Linked DNA regions of Homo sapiens: region 2 is linked to region 1. A link means that fine-mapping ties the variant in region 1 to the expression of a gene that starts in the linked region. Tissue or cell type: prefrontal cortex. Region 1 holds a variant in brackets; the other region holds the start of a gene. All regions are shown on one strand. Distances are between the middles of the regions.

Region 1 (5,374 bases):
TCAGAGTCAGCCAAAAAGGAAAGGAGCAAAACATTTCTGAGAGCTGCCCCTGGGCCACACCCCAGCTCCCAGCGGGCTCCCACCCTGCCCCAGAGGACAGCTTCAGAGAGGAGCCTGAGGCCTACCTGGCTCTGAATACGCCGGCAGGGACTGGGCACAGGGAGCTCACCACAGAGTGACGCCAAGTGAGGGAAGCCACAAAGCAACATCAGTGAGTGGGTCTCCAGCCCCTAGACGCCCCCCAGCCATGCAGCCCAACATCCCTGCAACCTGCTAACACCAGGCAACTCACTAGGCAACTAAGTGTTGGGAGAAACGTGGATTCACTCATTCATTCCTCCTAACAACCCTACCGGGCAGGCAATTTGAACCTTCACACTACAGATGAGAAAAGCAAGCCTAGAGAAGTGAAGGAGCCTGTCCGGAGTTACGTGGTGACAGCCAGTAACCGGTCCCAGGGAATGTGCCCCCAGTGCCTAAACTCTAAGCTGCTCTCTTACACAATCTCTCAGGGACATGAGTTCTGAGGTGCACCAATGACCAGAGATGGAGTTAGCAACTCCCTTTGTTCTTCCTCTATAGGATCCGCCATACCAAAATCAGCGACCTGATAAATAAGCAAGGCTTTTCAAAATGAACGCCACTAAAACTCATCATGGCAGGTAAAATGGGTTCGTAAAGATGCTATGCTTGGCTCATAAGTTAATTTCCAAAGAACGATTCCAACCCCTTCCCAAACTGCATCTACAGGTCAGCAATGACCCACGTGGACAAGCCTGGCCAAGCTCATGGCCATTGCCAAGCTAGGGCCAGCACACTGCACTAGCTGCTCCCTGCTTGCGTATCCCCTTTCCACACACAGGGAATGAGCCCTCCAGGCAAGGGAGGTGGTGGTGGGGGAGCAGCATTCCTTTCTCCTGAGATTCTGCAATGCAGGAGTGGGTGGGGGACCATAAGGGAAGAGGGGGAAGAAAAGTTCTGATTTGGAAGTTTCCACTGGCTTTCAGGCCCCCTCCAGCTCATCAATGAGTCCTTTCAGGGTTCCCTCTCCCCAACTGAGTTATCACTTCCTGTCCAGCACACTGCACCCATTGATGGGGTATCAGCAAACCCCACCAGATTACACTGGAATTAAGGAGACTGGACATGAATTGAGGAGGGAAGAGGAAGAAGGCTGGAGAGTAGGGAGTGGCTTTCAATCCCATATTCAATGGGATATTCAATCCCACATTGTTGGATTAAGAAAGGATTTGTAATACAGGAAGCTAGGTCACCCTTGGCTTGTCTCATAGGTAGGGCAATGAGGACAATGAGATAGAATTAGGTATTGGGGGCAAGCACACGGTACCCAAGATGACCTCTCCAAGATGACTGACAACCAAAGGCCTGCCAAGAAAGGAGTGGACCCTGGCTGTGAGGGTAGAAGTGAGTGTCTCTTTGTGTTTTTATTGGCCTAAACCAGGCTCACAACCCCGAGAGGAATCTAGAACATCTTGGCTCTACCTGAAAGGGCTGCTGCTCAACTCACACTGATTCTCCCTTCTCTAGTACTTGCCTGTGATCCGCAGAGGTGGGCTCCCTAGTGGCCATGTCTGTGCTAAAAGACCCTCAACTCCCAGCCATACTGATTGGTCCAGAGAGGGCATCTGACCCAAGCCAGACCAATCAAAATCGTCCCTGGGATTTTTCAACTTGGAACTGGGAGTCAATTTCCCCTCTGTTGGGAGCCAAAAGATATAAAATTCTAGAGCTGCTGACAGCCATATTCCTCAGGGTGTGAGGTAACAGAAGCTGAGGGCAGTGCCAGAGGGAAGCAGAGACAAGACAGAGGGAGAGCAGATCCTGGTTTCAGGCATTCCTGAAGCCTCTGCCTCACTGCCCTTCTCACCATGTGGTCGGCTGCACAAGCTTCCCTGGTCCCTCCTTCCAATCACATCTCCTTTGTGTCTAAGCCAGTGCAATTGTAAAACTATCACTTGCAACCCAAAGAGGCCTGACTAACTTAGCTGGCATCAAGGGGGGTGTCTGCAGGGGTAGCTGTGGGACCCATACTACCATTCCCTTGTGAACATGCCTTTGTGTCTTAGAGACACACACCTACCACGTACATGTACAAACTGGGTGGCAAGTGCCTCATTCGGTCAGACAGACACCGTGGTATGTATGCCTAGTTTGTGCCTGTAGTTGAAAAAATTGCTTATTTTCTGTTTCGGTCTTCCCTGAGTGTTTGCTTTTCTTTGCCTGCAATGATGCAGTGGCTTCTGTCTCACCCTGGATGTTTATAGACACACGTCTGGTCAGGCACACAGCACCTCCCACCATCCTCCC[G/C]CCTCTTCACCACAGTTTCCTACCCTGCAGGCAAGGGAGGGTGACAAAGCGTTACTGTTAAGACCATCAGAGGAGGCCAACAAAGTCCTGAGTGTCTGCCTGCAGTATGCAAGATTGAGACGAGCCCAGCTCCACCTTCCAGCTTCCCTCCTCTGTCCCTCTGCTCCCACCTGGACTCTGACCCTGACAGCTCTCTTGGGGGCTCCCTGGATAAGCGAGGGTATGAGAGAGGCCAGCCCACCAGAGAGACTTGGGCCACTGTCCGAGCTCTGACAAACTCACCTGCAGGTCAAAGAACTTGCTGTACCTCCGGTAGATAGTCTGGGAGGTGGAGTCAGACCAGGTCACATTGATTATGTATACCTGTGGGAAAAAGGTAAGAGCAGGTGAGCAAGGCTGGATTTCAAGCTGTCTGTGCCAGGCATCATGTAACATGACTGCAGGTGTTCCATATGGCAGGACCACTCTTTTACTCATCTCATCTGTCCCTAGGGGCTAGCACAGTATCAGCTACCATGTAGATGCTACAATATATGTCTAAATACACACACACACACACACACACACATACCCCTAGAGGGATATTTCATCAAATGCCAACAATGATTATCTTAGGAAAGTAGGATCAGAATGAGTGGTTTTAATTTCCTTCTTTTTATTTGTATATATTTCATACAATAAACATAAAATTGAGGTCACTACATTTTTGTTTGTTTGTTTTTGAGACAGAGTCTCATTCTGTTGTCCAGGCTAGAGTGCAGTGGTGTGATCTCGGTTTACCGCAACCTCTGCCTCCCTGGTTCAAGCAATTCTCCTGGCTCAGCCTCCCGAGTAGCTGGGAATACAGGTGCCTGCCACCATGCCTGGCTAATTTTGGTATTTTTAGTAGAGACGGGGTTTCGCCATGTTGGCCAGGCTGGTCTCGAACTCCTGACCTCAGATGATCCACCTGCCTTGGCCTTCCAAAGTGCTGGGATTACAGGCATGAGCCACCACGCCTGGCCTTTTTAGATAGCTAATTTCCACTGGTTCACAAACTTTAGAGTGAATGAGACTCTATAAGAGGCCCTCCGAAATTGCAGGTGGACCCCGCTCTCTGAAATTCTGCAGACCTGGGTTTTGAGGGCTCGGATGTTTACACTTTTAACAAACCCCAGCTTGTTTTGCTACTGTGGATCCTCAGAACTCACTCTGAAATGCCTTTCAGGAGACCAGAAGTGCTCAGAGATGTGTGATTCATCTCAGCATCCCTGTCTTTGCTCAGTGCCTGGCACAGAGCAGGTGCTCAGAAAACACTTTGCTATGTTGAACAAACACACTGGTCTTCTGGATGAGAAACGGATTTGAAGAAGAGGCGTTAGCACGTGGGAGACTGGAAAAACTTTTCTCTTTGGGAGCCTCACAATGAAGGCATTTCAGGGCCAGGCTGTCACCCCGGTTCCCAAGTCTCCATCAGGCTCTGCCAGAGCTCATGCCACTCTGGAAGGCTGAATTGACTTAGGAATCCTTGGAGAAGGAGAGAAAGCCCCCAGTCCACACAATCTGGCCTGCTCTTCCCACTATTTCTGTCCTTCCTGGGAAAGGCCTGAGTTAGAGGAATGGGTGCCCTCCCACAGCCTCAGGGCTTTTCTGTTGAACTTCTCCCTGGGAAGGACACCTGCAGGGGTGTCTCCAGGAGGACAGTTAAGGGAGGGCACTGATAAGACACAGGTAAGACCTCTGCCCCCTTTCCTCCCTCAGGAGAGAGGCAATGGCTGTAGGTCCTCAATGGTGGTTCCCAGGCCAGGGTGCCCTTTAGGATCACCTGGGGCCGGGGGCAGGCTTCATAAAAATTCAGATTCCGGGGTCTCTGCCTAGTCACTGTGTCCTGTAGGTCTGTAGGGGTGGGGCTGGGGGGACTCTACCCTAAGAATAAAATAGCCAGTGAGGCCAGGGATCTGGGCCAAGATGAGGAGGAACGTTAGCAAAGAGAAGTGGCATTTAGACACCTTGCCATCAGACTGGCCCACCTCCCAGGTGCCTGGAACAGGGTTTGCCACAGGCGTGGTGAGGCTTTGTGCTTGGCTGCTCCGGTGATACACAGGAAAATGAGCTGAATCCAGTCTCTTCTCCCTTCCTATCTCTATGACACAGAGGCAGACTCATGCCATGGCGAGTTTTTTCTGAAACGCAACCAAGGAGAGGGCCATAAAGCCAAAGCAAACAGGTCTGAGTGCTGCCACCCAGAGATGGGGCATTTATGACATGTGGCCCTGATACAGAACATAAGGTAAAAGGCCACCCCTATCTTCATCAGCTCAAAATAGACTATTGGCTATTATTATAATAAATGGGGGTATGCTTTGCTTTACATCATATGTAAATAGGTATCACATGATACATTGTAAAACCATTTTGATAACTTAATGTTACCTAATGTTTAAGCAACTAAATGTAACTAGTTACCAGTACAGCATAAAGCATGTATATGCATTAGCTCATTTAATCTTCAGCCCAATAAGGTAGCTACCACTGTTATTCCCATATTGTACAAGAAGAAGGTGAGGCTCAGAGAAGCTAAGTAACTTGCCTGAAGTTACACAGCTAATAAATTACAGAGCAAAAGATTTGAACCCAGGTCTAGCTGAGTTCTAATACCTATGCTCTTAACTGAACTGGACTATCTCCCTGTACATAAATTTATCTAAACTGAACTACTTTGATCAGGACTGAATGACATTGTCTACCAAAAAGTATCTGAAACAAGTCTCAATCAGTTTAGAAAGTGTATTTTGCCAAGGTGAAGGACACACCTGCGACACAGCTTCGGGAGGTCCTGATGACATGTGCCCAAGGTGGATGGGGTACAGCCTGCGTTATACATTTTAGGGAAATACAATACATCAATCAATACATATAAGATTTACATTGGTTCCATCTGGAAGGGTGAGACAACTCTAAGTCGGGGACGAGGGGCTTCCAGGTCATAGGTGGATTTAAACATACTCTGATTGGCAATTGGTTGAAAGAGTTACTACCATTAGAAAGGAGTGTCTGGATTAAGATA
Region 2 (5,374 bases), 55 kb before region 1:
TCTTCTTGCCTCAGCCTCCCAAAAGGCTGGGAGTATAGGCCTGAGCCACTGCACCTGGCCCAGGCTGGGACTTTTGATGGTTTAAAGCAAGCAGACACCAAGAGGGTATGCCCTGGGCCCTAAGAATACCCAACTCTAAAAACAAACAAACTCACAATCTACTTCTTTGATGCCTGAGATTGCAGAATCAGAATTTAGTTTCTTTAAGATTTTCGTCAAGATATATCAACTTTTTCCTGGAGAATGGTACAGTGAGCCTTATTAACCATTCACACCTGAGTATGAGCAGGCACCGGCTTCTCACTCAATAACAGGGTCTCGCTAGGGAAGAGAGCATAGAGCAGAGAGGCCTTGATGGAACTGGATGTAATGGGCAGGGGAGAAGAACGGCGGAACAGCCTCTACTGGCTCCCCTGTCTTCCTGAAAGCTGGCCCTGCTCTTGATGTTCAGCTGTTTCCTGACCATGGGGCCACCCAGCTTTCACCTGGGTTAGCCCTGCCTAGGCTAGGGTGGGAGTGGCTGAATGGCAGGCCCCTGCTTGTCTTTTTTTTTTTTTTTTGCGACAGAGTTTCGCTCTTGTTGCCCAGGCTGGAGTGCAATGGCATGATCTCGGCTCACCGCAACCTCCACCTCCCGGGTTCAAGCGATTCTCCTGCCTCAGCCTCCCTAGTAGCTGGGATTACAGGTATGTGCCACCACACCTGGCTAATTTTGTATTTTTAGTAGAGATGGGGTTTCTCCATGTTGGTCAGGCTGGTCTCGAACTCCCGACCTCAGGTGATCCGCCCGCCTCAGCCTCCCAAAGTGCTGGGATTACAGGCATGAGCCACCGCACCTGGCCCCTGCTTGTCTTTTTAAGTGCTGCCCCTGAAACTCACATGTCACCTCTGACCCTCTGCAGCCTGGGGACTGCAGGTCACCTCTTCCCCTGCTGGGCTGCCTCCAGCTTCTGGTGCAGCTGAGATGACATCCCCAGAGTCTACAGCCTTGTACCTGGCTCAGATCACACCCTGACACCCAATCCTTCCTTCTTCACTTGCAACATCTGGCTTTGTTGCCATTTACTTGGGCTGGGGGAAGGCAGGAGTGAGGCCTAGATGCTGAGGCTGGAAGCAGTGGGCACATGCAGGTTCCGGAAAGACACAATCCCCATAGCGAAGGTCAGCAGCCTGAGGCATACTGACACCATGCCCTGAGTTCTGGCTCCCATGAATCTCTCTTTAGAGCCAAGATGCTGCCTCTGGCTTGAAGTCTAGCATGGTAGACATTGGTAGGTTTTGTCTGCCAGCTTTTAATTATTACAGTGCCCGATTTTCTTTTGGGAAACAATCCCTCCTTCATTCTCAGTCCATGGGATTTCAGTGGGGTTGATCCCATCCCAAACTCTGGGGCTGATCATTAAGTACAGTCCAGCCATGGGCATGCAACCCACATTGGTCCAGTGGGAATCAGCCTGGGACTACTGCTGGAACTACCAGGAAGAGATGTGTTCTCTCTCTACAGCTGCTAACTCATAAATGCCAAGCCCCAAGCTGCTAGGAAGCATCTTTATGTATCTCTGTTACCACCTGGGGGAAGCCTATCAGAGAATTAAGTCAACAGAAAAGACAGCAAAGCTGAGGGCTTAAGAGACACAGATTTGGTCCCCTAGATCCAGCTATGCCTGAAACCATTACTCTTGGTTTTCAGTTATGTGAACCAATAAGTTTCCCCTTTTTTCTTAAGCCAGATTGAGATGGGTCTATTTCTTGTCACCAGGAGAGTCCTGACTGGTACATCTGGCTCTGCCAGTTACTGTTATGTGACAGGGGATGAGTCATAACCTATTCGAATGCTAGTTTCCTCAGACTACAAAATGGGAGGCAGTAATGTCTAATGCAAAGGACTATTACGAGGAGCCAGTGAATGAGTCTGTAAAAGCATTTAGCATGGAGCCCAGCCCATGGCAAATGGTGAACAAATGGGATCTCTTATGAGTTGACACTTCCAGGTCAAGGAGGTGGGATGGGGTGGGGTGGGCCCTGCCTGTCTCCTTGCTGGCCACGTGGAATCCAAGTACCAGAAGCATTTCCCAGGCACCCAGTCCATCCACCTGGCTTCCCACCAAGGCCAAACACGAGCTCCCCTCAGCCTGCGGCTGCCCTTCCTGATTCACCCAACCCATAAACACATCTGTGTCTCCCACACGGCTTCCGTTTCTCGGAGGCCCAACTCAGAGGGCAGAGGACGTGACACAATGGCAAGGAGGCCAATTGTTCATTCCACCCGCCCCCTAGGGGCATTCTAGGGTGACTCACACAGGTGTGTCTGCCCGCTCCAGCACTCCCCACTCCCTCTCCCACACGCCCAGGGAAACACACTTGCAAAAGCCCACTGGGGTTCACGACAGAGTGAAGCCTTCACCCTCCTGCAGCCACGGCTTGCTTGCAGAAAGCATCAGCGCACCTTGGAGGGAAGAACGATCTCCCAAATTCTGGTTCGGAGGTTCCCATACCCAGTAAGCAGAGCCAGGCTGAAGGGAACAGTATCTTTCTCTCCCTCACCCCAGGTGGGTCAACTGGGATTTTATGGGTGTCTGCTAGTGATAAAGCACCTAGTCCCAGGCCCATGGAGGGACTAATACATCTTTGCTGAACCAAATGGAATGGAAGTCTTTTTGAGCAGCATTCTAGAGCAGTGGGACCAGAACCATTTCTTTCTTTTTTATTTTTATTTATTTATTTATTGAGACAGGGTCTTGCTCTGTTGCCCAGCCTGGAGTGCAGGGGAGTGATCTCGGCTCACTGCAATCTCTGCCTCCCGGGTTCAAGTGATTCTCCCACTTCAGCCTCCGGAGTAGCTGGGATTACAGGCATGCGCCACCACACCAGGCTAATTTTTTGTATTTTTTTGTAGAAACTGGGTTTCACCATGTAGCCCAGGCTGGTTTTAAACTCCTGGGCTCAAGCGATCCTCCCAGAGTACTGGGATTACAGACGTGAGCCACTGCGCCTGGCCTCAGAATAATATTCTCAAACCATAACCCTTGCTTAACCCTTTCAGTGACTGCCCAGGGCACTGAGGATAAAATCCAAACTCCCTTCTGTGGCCGGGCAGGATTCAGCTCCTGCCTCTCTCTCCGCCCGCCCATCTCCTGTCACTCTGCCCACGCCACAGACACATCCTGCTCTTCCCCACCTCAGGCCTGTGTGTTCGCTGTCCCTGTTCCTGTTCCTGGAGCACTGTTCCTGCTGCCCTTTGCCCAGCCATTGCCTTGCATCCCTCATTGGGAGGCCTTTGGTGGCCATGTGCCCTCTCTCTCCGGCCTCCGTTGTTTCCCTCCCAGAATCTGCCACCATTGATAATGATCTTCTGAACCTGCCTCTTTACAGCGTTCCCTAAGGACAGAATGCAAGCTTCTTGCAGCCAGTGAAGCCCACGAACGTATCCTCAGGGCCCAGCACAAGGACGGGCACACAGGGACCCCGACCGCGACTTGCTGAAAGGTGAGTGAGTGTGAGTGTGTGTTCACACTGGCTTGCTCTAGGCTGTCTCTCATTTACACACCCCCAGACCCCTGGCAGACTAGCAAATACAGCTCACCCCACACATTAGGGACGGCAGCTTCAGCCAGAGCTGGGGAGAGGGGTGGATTCACCCTCCAGGACGCAGACACAGTGGGGCCAGAGTGTGGTTAGCTCAGAGGCCGGCATCAGGGCCAAGCTGTACCCCCTCCATGTGGGCGTGGGTGTGGTGGGCGTGGTGGGCAGTGGCTCTGTACCCTCCCTGTGGGAGCCGGGAATAAAGGGCCCCATTCAGCCTGTGCAGCCTCGGCTCCTCCCTCCAGGGGAGGCTGCCCTCAGGAAAGACGGTGGGACGCTGGGCAGAGCTTCCTGGCAGCCTCTCCCTGTGGCATGGTCCACAGTGTGGGGGGCTTGGCGAGGGGCACGAGGCCTCTGGAGCTCAGAGAAACACTGCAGAATGGCCCAGCCAGATGAGGAGGCTGTGGGGCAGGCAGATGGAAGTCCTGGGTCGCAGTGATGATGCTGAAAGACACCCACTCACTTCTGAGGCTCTGAGACAGAGGAAAAGCCGCAGGAAGCAGAGGCCTGTCGGTAAAGGGCCCAAAACCACAGGCCTGGCCAGGCCAGCCACAGGGGAGTTTGCCTGGCTCTCTTGGGATGGACACTGTCCACCAAAGCCTGCTTTCATTTTATTTATTTATTTATTTATTATTTTTGTAGAGATGAGGTCTCACTGTGTTGCCTAGGTTGGTCTTGAACTCCTGGGCTCAAGCAATCCACCCACTTCAGCCTCCCAAAGTGCTGAGATTACAGGTTTGAACCACCGCGCCTGTCCCAAAGCCTGCTTTCCTTGAGCTTTGGTTCTGTTGGCAAAACTGAGCCCAGACAGTCAACTCTCTTCATCAACCTCCCACCAGCATTTTCTGTGGTTCCACCCATCTCCTGCAAGGATGGTGACAGTAACATTAAGAGGACGTAACATTCATTGAGCACTTGGTATGTGCTAAGCCCTGTGCCGTGTACTTTATATTTATTATGACAGTTGATCCTCATAACAACCTCTGAGCTACATACTGGGTGCTGTTGTTATTCTCACTTTACAGATGAGTAAACTGAAGGTAAGAAAAGTTGAGTGCCCCGCCCAGGGTTGCAAAGCGAGGAAGTGGTGGAGCTGGGATTGGGTGTGCCACAGTCTCTTTCTTTGGGCAGACTGAACATGCCTAGGCTCCTAATGATTCTGCTATCTTCCTTCCTTTCCCTGAGCCCCGGGCTGTGCAACCTGTGGCCAGCTTTCCTGACGGGGTACATCTCAACCCTACCCCATCCCTGAAAGAAGGGGCAACACGCAACACCCATTCACTCCCTCCCAAATGCTGGCACTGTGCTGGGGGCTGGGCTGTGATGGTGACGGTCCCTGCCCTCGCAAAGGATACTGTGTATGGGCACTGCGCTGTGATGTGTTGGCTGTCATAGGCACACGCAGGAGGGAGACAGGGCTGAGGAAGTGGAGAGAGTGAGACAGGCAAAGGGAAGCGGGAAGAGTGTTCCAGGTAGAGGGAGAGTCTGAGCAGAGGCCCAGAGACTGAAGAGACAGGCACATCTGAGAAGCTGAAGGGAGTCCAGTGGGTACGTGCATCAGGACGCATGCTGGGAGGTCCCTGGGGTGGGGTTATGAAAGGTGCCAAAGAGACTGAATGGCCACACAGAGCACACTGAAGCCACTACAGTTGCATATTCAGAAATGCCTGAGTTCCTGGACCTCCAAGGCCAAGGACCATAATGTTCACGGTGAGAAGACACCAGAACCTTCAGACCCTGCCCGAAGCCCTTCTTCCTGAAGTCTTTCTTTCTTTCTTCTTTCTTTTTTTTT

Which allele goes with the higher level. Alleles are on the strand shown, and positions count from the first base shown. SD is a standard deviation of normalised expression in the study named.
For the expression in prefrontal cortex of the gene that starts at base 3,169 in region 2, G is the low allele of the variant in region 1 and C is the other (moderate effect, 0.60 SD a copy in GTEx).

Evidence for each region. PIP is the estimated chance that this variant, and not a neighbour inherited with it, causes the effect.
Region 2: SH3PXD2A-AS1 starts here. The variant in region 1 is the best candidate, but not a certain one, in a credible set for the expression of SH3PXD2A-AS1 in prefrontal cortex (GTEx, PIP 0.88).

The regions. Positions count from the first base shown.
Region 1 is chr10:103,798,672-103,804,045 of GRCh38, forward strand. It overlaps SH3PXD2A (SH3 and PX domains 2A), which reads right to left. Exons shown (of 15, transcript NM_001394015.1): 2 at 2,611-2,691. Among named protein-coding and RNA genes, the nearest start is that of SH3PXD2A, 54 kb to the right of the region's middle. RefSeq lists enhancers at 1,600-2,101, 5,102-5,374 and a silencer at 2,331-2,410. The variant G/C (reference allele first, on the strand shown) is at 2,329.
Region 2 is chr10:103,743,611-103,748,984 of GRCh38, forward strand. It overlaps SH3PXD2A-AS1 (SH3PXD2A antisense RNA 1), which reads left to right and starts at 3,169. Exons shown (of 3, transcript NR_038940.1): 1 at 3,169-3,486. All of the region lies in intron 3 of SH3PXD2A (SH3 and PX domains 2A), which reads right to left. RefSeq lists enhancers at 2,214-2,735, 3,152-3,652, 3,653-4,153.